Linked DNA regions of Homo sapiens: region 1 is linked to region 2. Evidence: fine-mapped expression QTL. Tissue or cell type: lung. Region 2 holds a variant in brackets; the other region holds the start of a gene. All regions are shown on one strand. Distances are between the middles of the regions.

What was found. PIP is the estimated chance that this variant, and not a neighbour inherited with it, causes the effect.
Region 1: TNR starts here. The variant in region 2 is fine-mapped to the expression of TNR in lung (TOPMed, PIP above 0.99).

What each region holds. Positions count from the first base shown.
Region 1 is chr1:175,740,670-175,746,426 of GRCh38, forward strand. TNR (tenascin R) reads right to left here and starts at 2,926. Exons shown (of 23, transcript NM_003285.3): 1 at 2,557-2,926.
Region 2 is chr1:175,597,550-175,603,306 of GRCh38, forward strand. All of the region lies in intron 1 of TNR (tenascin R), which reads right to left. Among named protein-coding and RNA genes, the nearest start is that of TNR, 140 kb to the right of the region's middle. RefSeq lists an enhancer at 3,111-3,180. The variant A/G (reference allele first, on the strand shown) is at 2,362.

The DNA of each region.
Region 1 (5,757 bases), 140 kb after region 2:
AGAAGTGGCATTATATGTAAAGTGAGTTTGTATCCAGTTTCCCACTCCTCTTCTAGTGGTTCTATAGGTGGTCAGAGCCCAGCCCTCTCCTGCTCCTTAGTCATCCTTGCCACATTCAGAGCCACAGAGGACTCAATGAAGGTGGTCCCAGAAAAACGTTCTTAGAGAGAACAGTCACCAAACACCCAAAGCCAAGACATCCATGGCAACATGCCCCAGATAGGGTGGCTTCAGCTGGGATTTCTGGGGCATGGTGATGTGACAATCAGGTGCACGACATCAGTTCAGCCTAGATGCCACCAGCCCAGGGTTCTCTCTTTGCAGTAAGCCCAGAGAGCTCTTTACCTGGCTCTTGGCCATCTTCTTAGCTGAGAAGTAAAGGCCAGCAGCACCTTGAGACTTCTGGCTGATTCTCATTCTTCACCAGAGAGAGGCCATTGCTCCACACTGAGTTCCCTAAAAGGCTTTGGCTGCAAGTCTATCCAATGGGGAGCAATCCATTCCTTCTCTCCTGCACATGAGCATTACTGCATTTCCTAGGTGAGGGAATATTAGCAGGCTAGAAGTTCTATTTCTGCTTTCGCTATCCTCTGGCTTCCCACTTTAAGCGTCTGTGTCTCTCCATTTATAAAATGGGTCCAATAATGTCACTGAGCACTTTTTTTTCAGAGAAAATTTAAGGGCATTAATGAGATAATGACTACTAAGTATGGTGACTTCAGTAATAAACTGTGGTTTTGGACAGGGTCCACTGCAAGGGCATAATTTTTTAAAAATCCTCAGTGATGTGTCATGCAGAAATCTATCCACTCACTTGTTCAAACTGGAAGATTTCAAGGACAGGAGGTTTGGAATGTTAAAATACTGAATGAGTCAGTGTTGGTTTCTGATGCTCTGCATTTGTCTATTTCAGTCTTTCTTCCCTACCCTTACAACCTCTGACTTCACTGTCTTCCTGGATGCATTCTACTTCCTGCCACTCTAGGGAGATGCTAAGATTTCTGGATCCAATGCCAAGCATAGTAAAAAAGAAAAGTGGTGCCATTTCACTCAGAACTGTGTCTCTCACCCAGAAGGCTCCCCAGCCAGAGGCAGAGAGTATTTTCTTCATCTTGGAGAAGGGGCCCATTGTGCTGAATTAAAAATAAGACAAAGAATCACCATTCTAGGGTCCATTTGGGGTTGGAAAGAGTGAAACCACCCCACCTTGCCTATGTATCTCCCCTGTCTCAACACACTTGAAGAAAGTGACCAGAACCATAAACAGTTAGGGGTTAAATCAAGGGAAGACTTGCTCCTACAAGAAGCCACATCTCTTTCAAGTTCCCTGTAGGATGCTGGCTCCACGGAGACTTGAATGATTGAAGGAAATCCTCAACACCACTTGTTGAATGACTCAACCAGGTAGGTGTGGCCAGGACTGAATGGGGCAGGGGCAGGCCTATAGTGTCTCCAAGACAATACCAAAGCAGATGCAGGGAATTGACTGAACATACTTCAGAGAGGCAGAAAGCAGGAGAGACAGAGTAATACCTTGCAAAAAGTAGCAGCAGTGAAGAAAGAAGTAATAATGAGCTCCTGTTTGCAGAGCCTCTCAGTGCTGGAGGAGAACAGAGTACCACTTCAAGCCCTCCTGAGTCTGGGACAAGTCTAATTTTGTTTCTGCTCACCCTAGACATATAGAGACAAACCTTTATTCTTAGTTGTTTTTCACTGCCAAATGCCCCAGAAAACAGGGCAGAACAGACTTTGTCTTCTTTCCAACCACCCATAGCCAAAGATGGCATAAAAGTGGAGGGTACCTCCTGCCTCCTTGCAAATGTAATATAACCCACACCAGCCAGTCTCTGCAAAGCTCAAGACACTAGCACTTTCCTACCACCATGAAGTCAGAAGGGACCTCAACCCCCCAAAGCCGCCCCAGCCTGAGCTTCACCTGTTGCACCTGCCCACTTACCATGGGTTCACACCAGAAGAGAAAGTAAAAGGTCAGGTTGGGCTCTCTCCACAGCAAGAGCCCAGAGAATACTAGGAAACTGACATTTTACAAAGCACCTCTTTAAAGCTCTCTCAGAGGTGCGTAACTTTTAACTCTACCTCCACTCCCAACCCCCCAGGCTTCCTTTGCAACTCTTTCCCACCATGGATGGCTTGTCGGGAGAGAGTTAAAGAAGGTGCACGACTAATTCCCCAAACCATCTCGCTTATCTACAGACAAAAAGAACAGCCTTACATGGAGACACGCAGAAACCACCCGCAATTTAGCTCAGACCTCACCTGTCTTATGCAACAGTACACACACACACACACACACACACACACACACCCGCAAGGCCAGAGTCCAATCCCCCTTTAATTCGGTAAACATAGTTTTGCGCCTTTCTTTTCCCTACGCAGAACCCGACTCTACTGGCAGCAGAGAAATAGATGTAACCCTAGTGCCAAATGCCTTGCAGAACACACAGATACACAGGAACCAAAATGCATCTCATAGCTCTCCTTGGTGCTGAAATCACGTTAGCCAGAAAATCAAAGGAGCGAGTGCTCTGGACTTACCCAGGCTGGGGGTGGGCGGCCGGGGAGCGAGAGGAGCTTCCTGGGAAGAAAATTCTTGCTTGCTCAGGCTGGAGCCAGCTGATGCGCTCACCTAGAGAGCCCTCCTCTTTCCCTTCTCTTCCCTTCCTCCTATTCTGGGAGGAAGAGACAAGGCTCCACGAAAGAAATGAAACCCAAGCTGTCAGGGCTACGGGTGGAAGGAGAATGAGGAGGCAACCAAAATAAGATCAAAAAGTCAGGTGGCTTCACTCCACTAGTGGTAATTCCTTGGGTCAGAGAGGACCCCCTTCTCTCACTCTCCCTGGGTCTGCCCGTCTCCTCTGGGTGTTGAGCCAACAGCCTTAGCACAGTCGGTTCCTGCCTCTGACGTGAAAGAGAGGAGGAAGCCTGGGACTGCTTTGCTGTCTCTCTCTCTCTCTCTCTCTCTCTCTCTCTCTCTCTCTCTCTCTCACGCGCTCTCTCTTTTCCCCTCTTGCTGAAATTTCAGCAGCATGATTTTTTTAAGCCTCCGTTTTTTCCATCCCCCTACAAGCAGCCCCCTAGTGGACAGAAAAGAAAAGCATCCTAAATCCTCTTGAACAGTCCAGATTCAGGCACAGAAATACTCCCCGCACCCAACTCTTGGAGCTGCCTCTGCATAGGCAGGGTCCTGAAGAAGATAGAGGCTTCCCTCTGACCAACCCAGATAAGAAGAGAAAGGGAGAGGATGGAAGCTTTTGCAGATCCTTTGCCCATGATTGAAGGAGAAATCCAGGGTGGAATGGGTTGGGATAGAATGTTTTGGAATAAGGTCAGTTGTGGGGTTCTCAAGTGGTTTGAGGTCCGGGCTCAGCAGAAGGAACCCTCCAAAAAGTCAGCGTCTGCAGCCAGGTGAAGTATGTGTATACGTAGCACAACCCAGGCATGGGAATGCCTAAAGAGGCAGAGGATACAGGGAGCTGGCCCTTCATCCAACTCCACAATATAGCTTTTTTGTAAAGCTAGTAAGAAAAATATCTGAAAAGATATGGCCTGAGATCATCTCAGAAGTAGAGACAGAAGTGACCTTGATGCACATTTATGGAGAACCTTGGCAGAGAAGGGGCATCAAGGGGTCACTGCTCATAGGCTCATAAGGGATATCTAACATTCTCTTTTAAATGTACAGCCACACAGCCTCCCGGAAAGAGTCCTAATACTTACATCTAAAAATCTGAGTCCTGGTTTCAGACTGCCACTTGCTTACTGGACATTTTGCTTCTCTATGGCTCAATTTTACTGTTTGTAAAATGTGGATAATGCTGCCCCCTCCCTACTGAATAGGAATGCTAAGGGACTGGAATGATATAGAAACATAGAACCTCAGGATTGGCAGGGAATTTAAAGGTAATCTTATACAAACACTCTTCTTATATTTGATTCACTCCTGGCAAATAACAATAGCTAACATTTATAGAGTGTTTATACCAGGTGCTAGGCACTGTTATAAGCCCTTACATGTATTAGCTCATTTAAGCCATACAATAACTCTATAATGCAGAGGCTATTATTGCTACTCTATAGACTGGGAACTGAGTAACAGAGGAATGAAATAACTTTCCAAAGATCACACAACTAGTGAGTGTCAGGGATGGTAATGGAACCTGAGCCATCTGACCCTGGAGCTTCCTCATTGAATTACCATGTTCTATAAATGTACACTTCAGGAGTGACATTTGAAGTAAATAGAAGATAGCACCACAGTTATCATTGCTTTTATTTATGACAAAGTGCCTAGATTGTTACAATAAATTTATATGTGGCTGAGTTTTTAAAATAAAATATTTACCACTAGGGGTGCCAAACAAACTGTGGAAATTGCTATTACCGATGAGAATCTCCTAAGAAAATTAATTCTCTTGGTGATTTGGGTAGTTTCACATATACAAAACTGGCTTTAAATCTTATAAAATTGGAAACTATTGGGTTTTAACATCAGTTCAGAAGACACATCACTCAATTTCTGTACCAAAAGCAAATTATTGCCCACTGCCTAACACAGTGCAAGAACGGAGCCAGCAATTTGAAGAGCTGAAACGTTGTAATGCATTCAGGTAATAAACGCTCAGTGAGAAATTGACATTTTCTTCAGAATCTCAGAATTATGAATTCCTTAGCTGAGGTGGCTTACTTTTTCTGGCTTTTTTTTTTTTTTTGGGTGAAAAGTGGATGAAGTAGGACAAAGATGGTAGGTGACAATTAACAAATCATGGTCCCTGTCCTCAACAGAGTTACCAGTTCCTCAAAGGGGGAAAGAAAGAGCAAGACACAAATGATTACAATTCAAGGACTAAGTGCCAAGAATTTGGGCAGTGAGCACATGGAAAACACAACTAACTTGATCTTTGAGGGCTAGGGGAATTCCTAAGGTATGCAGCATCTAAGCTGAGGCCTGAATAATCAGAAGTCTTCCCAGCAAAAAGTGGGTGAGAGAATTAAGCTGAAGGCATAGCATGTGCAAACTCATGGAGGAGGGAAAGGGGAAAGAGCATAGTAGGAAACTTTCAAAGAAAGTATTACCCTTCCACTGACAAATGGGGAATCTGAGGCTCATAAAAGTTAAGTGGCTTGCTCAAGTTCACACATCTAATAAGTATAGAACCCAAATCAAATGCACATCTATTTGACTCTAAAGTCATCCCCTTTGTGAAGCATGATGATATCTTCTCTCATCACTTAGAAGTGCCCACACCATTTAATAGAGTGTTTCAATAACATAGAAGCTAACATAACCGAGTGAGGGTGTAGCATCTACCAGGAAGCTGGAAGTATGATCTGTTACTATTAGATGAGAAACCCATAAAAAAGGCACTAGTCAGTTCAAAAAAAGGGGAAATTTAGGGTGCTAGTATTTTTTTTCTGGTGGATGTACAATTATTAAATGTATTGGGAAGTAGGAATATTTCAGAAGTACGGAGACATCAGAGACTTGGATTTGAAATGAAGATGAATGTAGAAACGGCTAAAAGAAGGTTTCAGATTAAGTGCTCTGGGAGCCCAGAGGAAGGAAAGGTCCTTCTGCCTAGGAGGGGTTATGGGAGACTTCACCTGGGAAGTGGCCATTCATCTGGACCGTAAAGAATGTAGGTTCAGGAGACTGCTCCATTGCACCTAGACATTTTATAAATAGAAACATGAGATCCGAGTTTTCTTAATGAATAGTGAGACACTGATTAGAGGGAG
Region 2 (5,757 bases):
AATTGTACCCAAGAGCTGAATTTTCAGAGGCCTTCCTTTACTTTTCAGACACTGGGGCTTGTCTATACCTGCTGATGGTTTTAGATGGAGGAAGAGGCCTATTGGTTTGGAATATTCTGGTAAAAACCTTGCTGAGGGGTGTATTGGAAATGTGGGGGCATGGGGGCCCTAGTTAGCTGGACCAGTCATGTAAATTAGCATTGATCCATTCACCTCCAAGCATTTGGCCAGGCCCAAAAGAAAAACAGATGGCAGTTAGGGAAGAATGAATTTTAATAAAAATGGAAACTACTGACTTTTCTGCAGTAACATTATTCCTCTAGGCTCATTTCCATTGTTCTCTGTCATCACTAGAGAACAGAGAAGGGTTAGTGAAAATTGAACAGACCTCTGCACCAGCTAGGGTCTTTAAATCCAGCTTCTCAAGAAGTTCACAAGAAATCAGATAATCTTAGATTATCTTTCCTGGACCTCACCTTTATCATCAACAAATAATTCTTTCAGGCCACTACACACAGGGCATGTTCCTGAGGATGCCGAGAACAATATAAGGCAGTAAGGCAAGGGACCGTCCTTGCATTAGTCAAACAGGATGTGTACTCAAGAACAACAGTAACAGTCTCCAGAAATCAGTGTATGAACTTCCCTCAGGAAGTAAAGATCACCATGCAAATGCGAGGTGTTTTCCCACCGGTGATTCAACTGTAGACCTCATTTAGTCCAATTCTCTATTTCAGTTAAGTTTAACGATTATTTTTAGAGCATTTACCAAAACTAAAGGCCATACAGGTTAAATGACTTGATCAAGATCACTTCATTAGTTATATCATTGAAAACATAATAACAAATCAACTCACCAAGATTAGAGGTGCTATTTTCCATGGGACACAAACAAAAGGAATATTAAATGCTGCAGGAATTCAGGCAATACAGTTATAGTTTTCAGCAAGCATGTTTTAGTTACCAAAGCCTTGGACGTGGGCATGAATACATGCTTATGGAATGTACAGTATGCTGTATAAACAGAAGGCATGCGTGAAATGGCATGGTGACTGTGAGAATCCAAATTCTAAAAGGTTATGAGTGTCTAGAACTGGAGAACCAAATGAATAGAGGTACATTTAGGAGAAGTATGCACTCTGCAGTTAGTTTCTAGAAGGACAGAATATGGGTCACATCTGACCCTGCTCCAGAGACTTTAGTCAAGTGTTGTGGGAAGGCACTCAAAGAGCCAAGGTCTAGGTAAGACTCCATTAGGTCAGGCACCCAGCCGCTCAGTGGCATGTAAATCACTCTGCCACTCTAGAATCTCAAGTTCCCCAAGTCTTCACATTTTCTGGAATGCTCTAATGAATCTGTAAGCTCCATGAGGGCAGAAATCCAACGTGTGCAGGAACCCCTCCCTCTTTGTTGAGCAGAGAGGAGATGCGTCCTTAAATCGAATGCACTCTTAGGTGGCTCCGGCTCTCCAGGAGCTAAAGGGCTTCCCCAAGGTCACACGTTCAGTGACGGAGAGGCAGGGTGGAGCTGCGGTCTCCAGACTCCATTCCAGCCTCTATGGGCCCCGGGTTGCGGGGGGTCACCAATTTGCAGAGCTGAGGGAGAAGAGAGGAGGGAGGAAGGAGAGCAGGAGGGAGGGGAAGCTGTCCCCAGCTGCCAGATGGGAAGTGTCAGCTTGGCCTTGGCCACCTCGGGTCACCGCTCCTCCCTTTCAGGCGCCCGGGTTTGCCCACCGCGAAGAGCAGTGGCGGAGACATCGCAGCAACGCTAACGGGGCAGACCGCATAGGGGCCCTGAGAGGCACACACGCGCCTTCTGCTCACACCTCAGGCAGTCGGAGGGGCCCGGCGGAGCTGTGTTCGTGTTGTCATGGCGACGGAAGCAGACCATTAGAGCATTACGAGGAAATGAGAAGACTTGGGGTCTTGCGATCGCCGCCGAGTGACGGAGTAATTCGCAGATGCCACCGAGCGGTGGGGCGGCGCGGTTAATGGGGTCTCTGCTGGGCTAGTGTCCCGCATCAGCGGTAATGGGGCCGGCCCACCCGGAGGCAGCCCGGAGCAGCGTCGCCCCAGCAGGCTTATGCGGACCTGGCTAACTCCAGAGGCCGGCGGCTCCTTGCGGTGGGGAGAGGAGGACAGAGGGGCCAGGTGGAGCGGGGTCTGCAAACAGCCCAGGCTTTTCGTGAGACCCATTGGCGGGTTCCCTGCCACCAATATGCAGTCTCACAACCGTTTTCTGTCCCACTTGAAACCAGAAAATACACTTCCCAGATAGCAAGGAGGGGTGATTCGGATTCAACTCTTGCTGCAACTCGGGATGGAGGCAACCCCTCGGCGTGGGGATGCTGAGGCAGGCAAG[A/G]GACTGGGGCCGGTTCTACAGGAGGGAGGAAAAGAGTGAGCCATATGATAGAGTAAAATCCCTTGCAGGACTTCCATTCGACTGCACGCCTACTTATCCTGGCATTCTGCATGTTTCCAGCATTTTAGGAAAGTGTCACAGTGGTTAATTAGCACAGACTCTGGAACTGGACTCGGGGATTGGAACCCCAGTTTTACCACTTGTATTAGCTGTGATCTTGAGCAGGTTACTTAACTCCCTTGTGTGTCAGAGAAGTTCTGCATTTGTACAATGGAGATAATAGTAATATACCTTAAAGAGGTGTTATGAGGTGTATATTTAGAATGATGCCTGGCATATAGTAAGAATTAACTATTTTTACTATTTAGCTATTACTCGTATTATCATAAGTATTATTAGTATCAGTCTGGATTTATGCAGTGAGATATCCTATAAAATAAGAGGGTTGGAAGAAGTGATCTTCCATTGCAGTATGTGGAACAGTTCTGCAAACATAGTTTTGTATGTTACTCTTGGCTACCAATATCTATTTGATTTAAAGGTGATTTGGCTTAGCAGAAAGCAAGGCTTCTGTTTATGTCTATACATGAGATGCACCACCAGACACTGACTGTATTGAATTGAATGGCCCCACAGCTATAATACCCACAGGGTTTGCACGTAAAGATAGGGCCACCATGTACAGTTGAGTTGGTTGTATATCCTGCACAAAGGTGCCCAGCTGAGGGGTGAGTAGGAGCAGAACCCCAGCCCCTGCTTTACTCCTGAAGCTATGCTCCCTGGCGTAGTGCTATGTCTGCCTGGAGGAAGGAGCTCATTTAAAAAATTTTCAACAACTTACCTTACGGGCTTTCAGTAGCCTTGTGATCTTTGGGAAGGTCACAGCAAAACGAAAACAATGAAAAACCCAAAAAGCAAAAAACAGAAAACAAAGCATGACATTTAGTCAGATGCAGATCCTGAATTTAAGACTTACGCTACAGAGGAACTCCTGAGTTTGTTTGTGGTCTTGAGTGAAAAAAAAATTTGCATTTCCTCTGACAGTTCCTCATTCTCTTTCCTCTAGCTTTTGCAGCATTTGTTTAGATAAACTTTGCTGAGGAGATCAAATCACTTTGCTTATAACAGAAATGATATTGTAGTTTCAACATATTTATACAGATTTATATGTGTGCCAAAATATGTTTACATATGTAGAAACATGAAGGTACAGAAATGCCTTTATCTTCTGTTTGTGTTTAGCTGACTTTGACAGTCCAGTAGCTATACCTCTCAGAGGAGTCTGGTAAAAACCGCCACATCCTGCACTTGCTCTGCAGCGGGTAGAGTTTGGGTAAGGTCACTTGGCCAGTTCTTACTCAGAGATGCGGCCCTGAGGCGCTGAAAAAGCCGAAACCCTCGCCTTTGAGGTTGGCCATGGCCACTATTACACAAAACTTAGTCTTTCAATTTGATATATGTTTGCATGTCTTTGGGGGACTTAGTGTGTGATCCACAGACTTCTAGTCATCATGGCAGAAGAGAAAGGTGAATGGGCCTAAACTTAAGAGGCCTGAGTTCCAGTTCTGGATTTGTAATATTAAAATCTGTACAATTTTGATAAACACTTAGCCACTCAAGTTTGAGTTCCTTGATTTGAAAATAGGGATAATTATACTCATGAATATTTATGGAGATAAAATGTTAAAAGCCATGTGAGAATTATGAAAACGCTATATACAGTCAAGAAACAGATTCAACTAAGAGTCATTGAGAACCTGTTGTGTGCCAGGGCCTGAGTTAAGCAATACCTAGAGAGAAATCGCTCCCCTCTCCACTCACTTATGATCTGTAAGATGAGGAGGTTGTATTATACTATCTCTATAGTTTATTTCAGCTTTAGGGCTTTTAAAACTCTATTCCTACCTAATAGAATAGTCATATAATTTTACAGCTTGGAAGGACTCCATCTTGGGAGGAAGAATGAACATACTTGCAAAACACACATGAACAATTTAAAGAAAAGCCATGAATAAATGCACACAGTAAGGAAGGTATCTTCAGAGGACACACTTGGCCCCACTGTTGGCCTGCCCCAGCACCCCACTGTATAGAGCAGGGAGATCAAAAACCATCTGGGGAGACTTAGCATGCAGAAGAGGAAGGATGTCAACCAGACTCTCCTCTGAGTGGGTTTGGAAAGTATGTGGATCTGCTTTAAATTGATAATATAAATATTTGTCCTCCAGGCTCCTGCCAAGACAATGTATCTTCCAACTACTTGCTGCCTGACTCTAATCCAAGGACCAAAGGCAAAAAAAAAAAAAAAAAAAAAAAAAAAAATAGCGTTCCTGTAATTGTCAAAAGGACATGCGATCTACTCATTCCTCTCTATATCACACTGGTCCTCAAATTGCATCAGAGCTTGTTAAAATACAGATTCCCTGGCTCCATTCCCAGAGTTTCTGATTCTATAGGCCTGAGTTGAGCTAAAAAAATGTGTATATCTAATAAGTTCCCAGGTGATAGTGATATTGCAAGTTCAGGACTACTACACCGTGAGAACAGCTGGTCTGACTAACATCAAGTTTATCAACAGGTCAAGCCTAAAACAAACAGATGCATACTTGTAGCACATTGTTCTGATCCCTCAGTAGAAGCAGGGTGTCTTGAATTTACGGACACTGCACTGTGTCCTTCTCTTGCATTGAGGAATAATACAAATAATGGCCTTAAGAAATGACTGGCATCTTCACTCTTGTGAAGTTGTTGAGGATGCAGATTCCCACATCTCTCAATGTCCTTTTATTAGTATCCAAGAAAGAAATCTCTATCAGTTATTAGAAGGAGGAAGAAGTGCTCATTTTATCCCCAGAATGATTGGGATGCTTTCTTCTTTCAGGTTACATGACTTCATTTGCTTCATTAGCTTCCTAGAAAGCTCCGAGACCAACAAACAGCTCATTTCCAATAAACGGGGAGAAACTTATGGCACATATTTGAGGGTACTAATTTTCCCTGTAATATATTTTTATTCAACTTATTTTTTCTTTGTCTTCTTCTCCTTTGTAAGTTTTCCCAAATCTTTCCTAGAATAAAGGAGGAAAAAATAAATACATACATAATAAAATAAGGAAATGGTGAAAATTACGTGTGCTAGTTCTGAGGGGACAAGAAATAACCGAGTAATAGAAGTTGGTGTCAGTAAACGTGTGTTGTCTGTTTTAGTGTGGTGGGTAACAAAAGTGATTTACCCAAGGTCCACCAGCTATGTGCTGTAGACCTGGCACTAAAGTATAAATCCTCTTGCTCCAGTGACAGAGACCTTTTTTTCTAGTCTTTCCTGCTTCCCATACATAAAGCATTGAGATAACTGGGCTCCTGCCTCAGTGTTTGGTGTCAAGTTATCCAACCTGA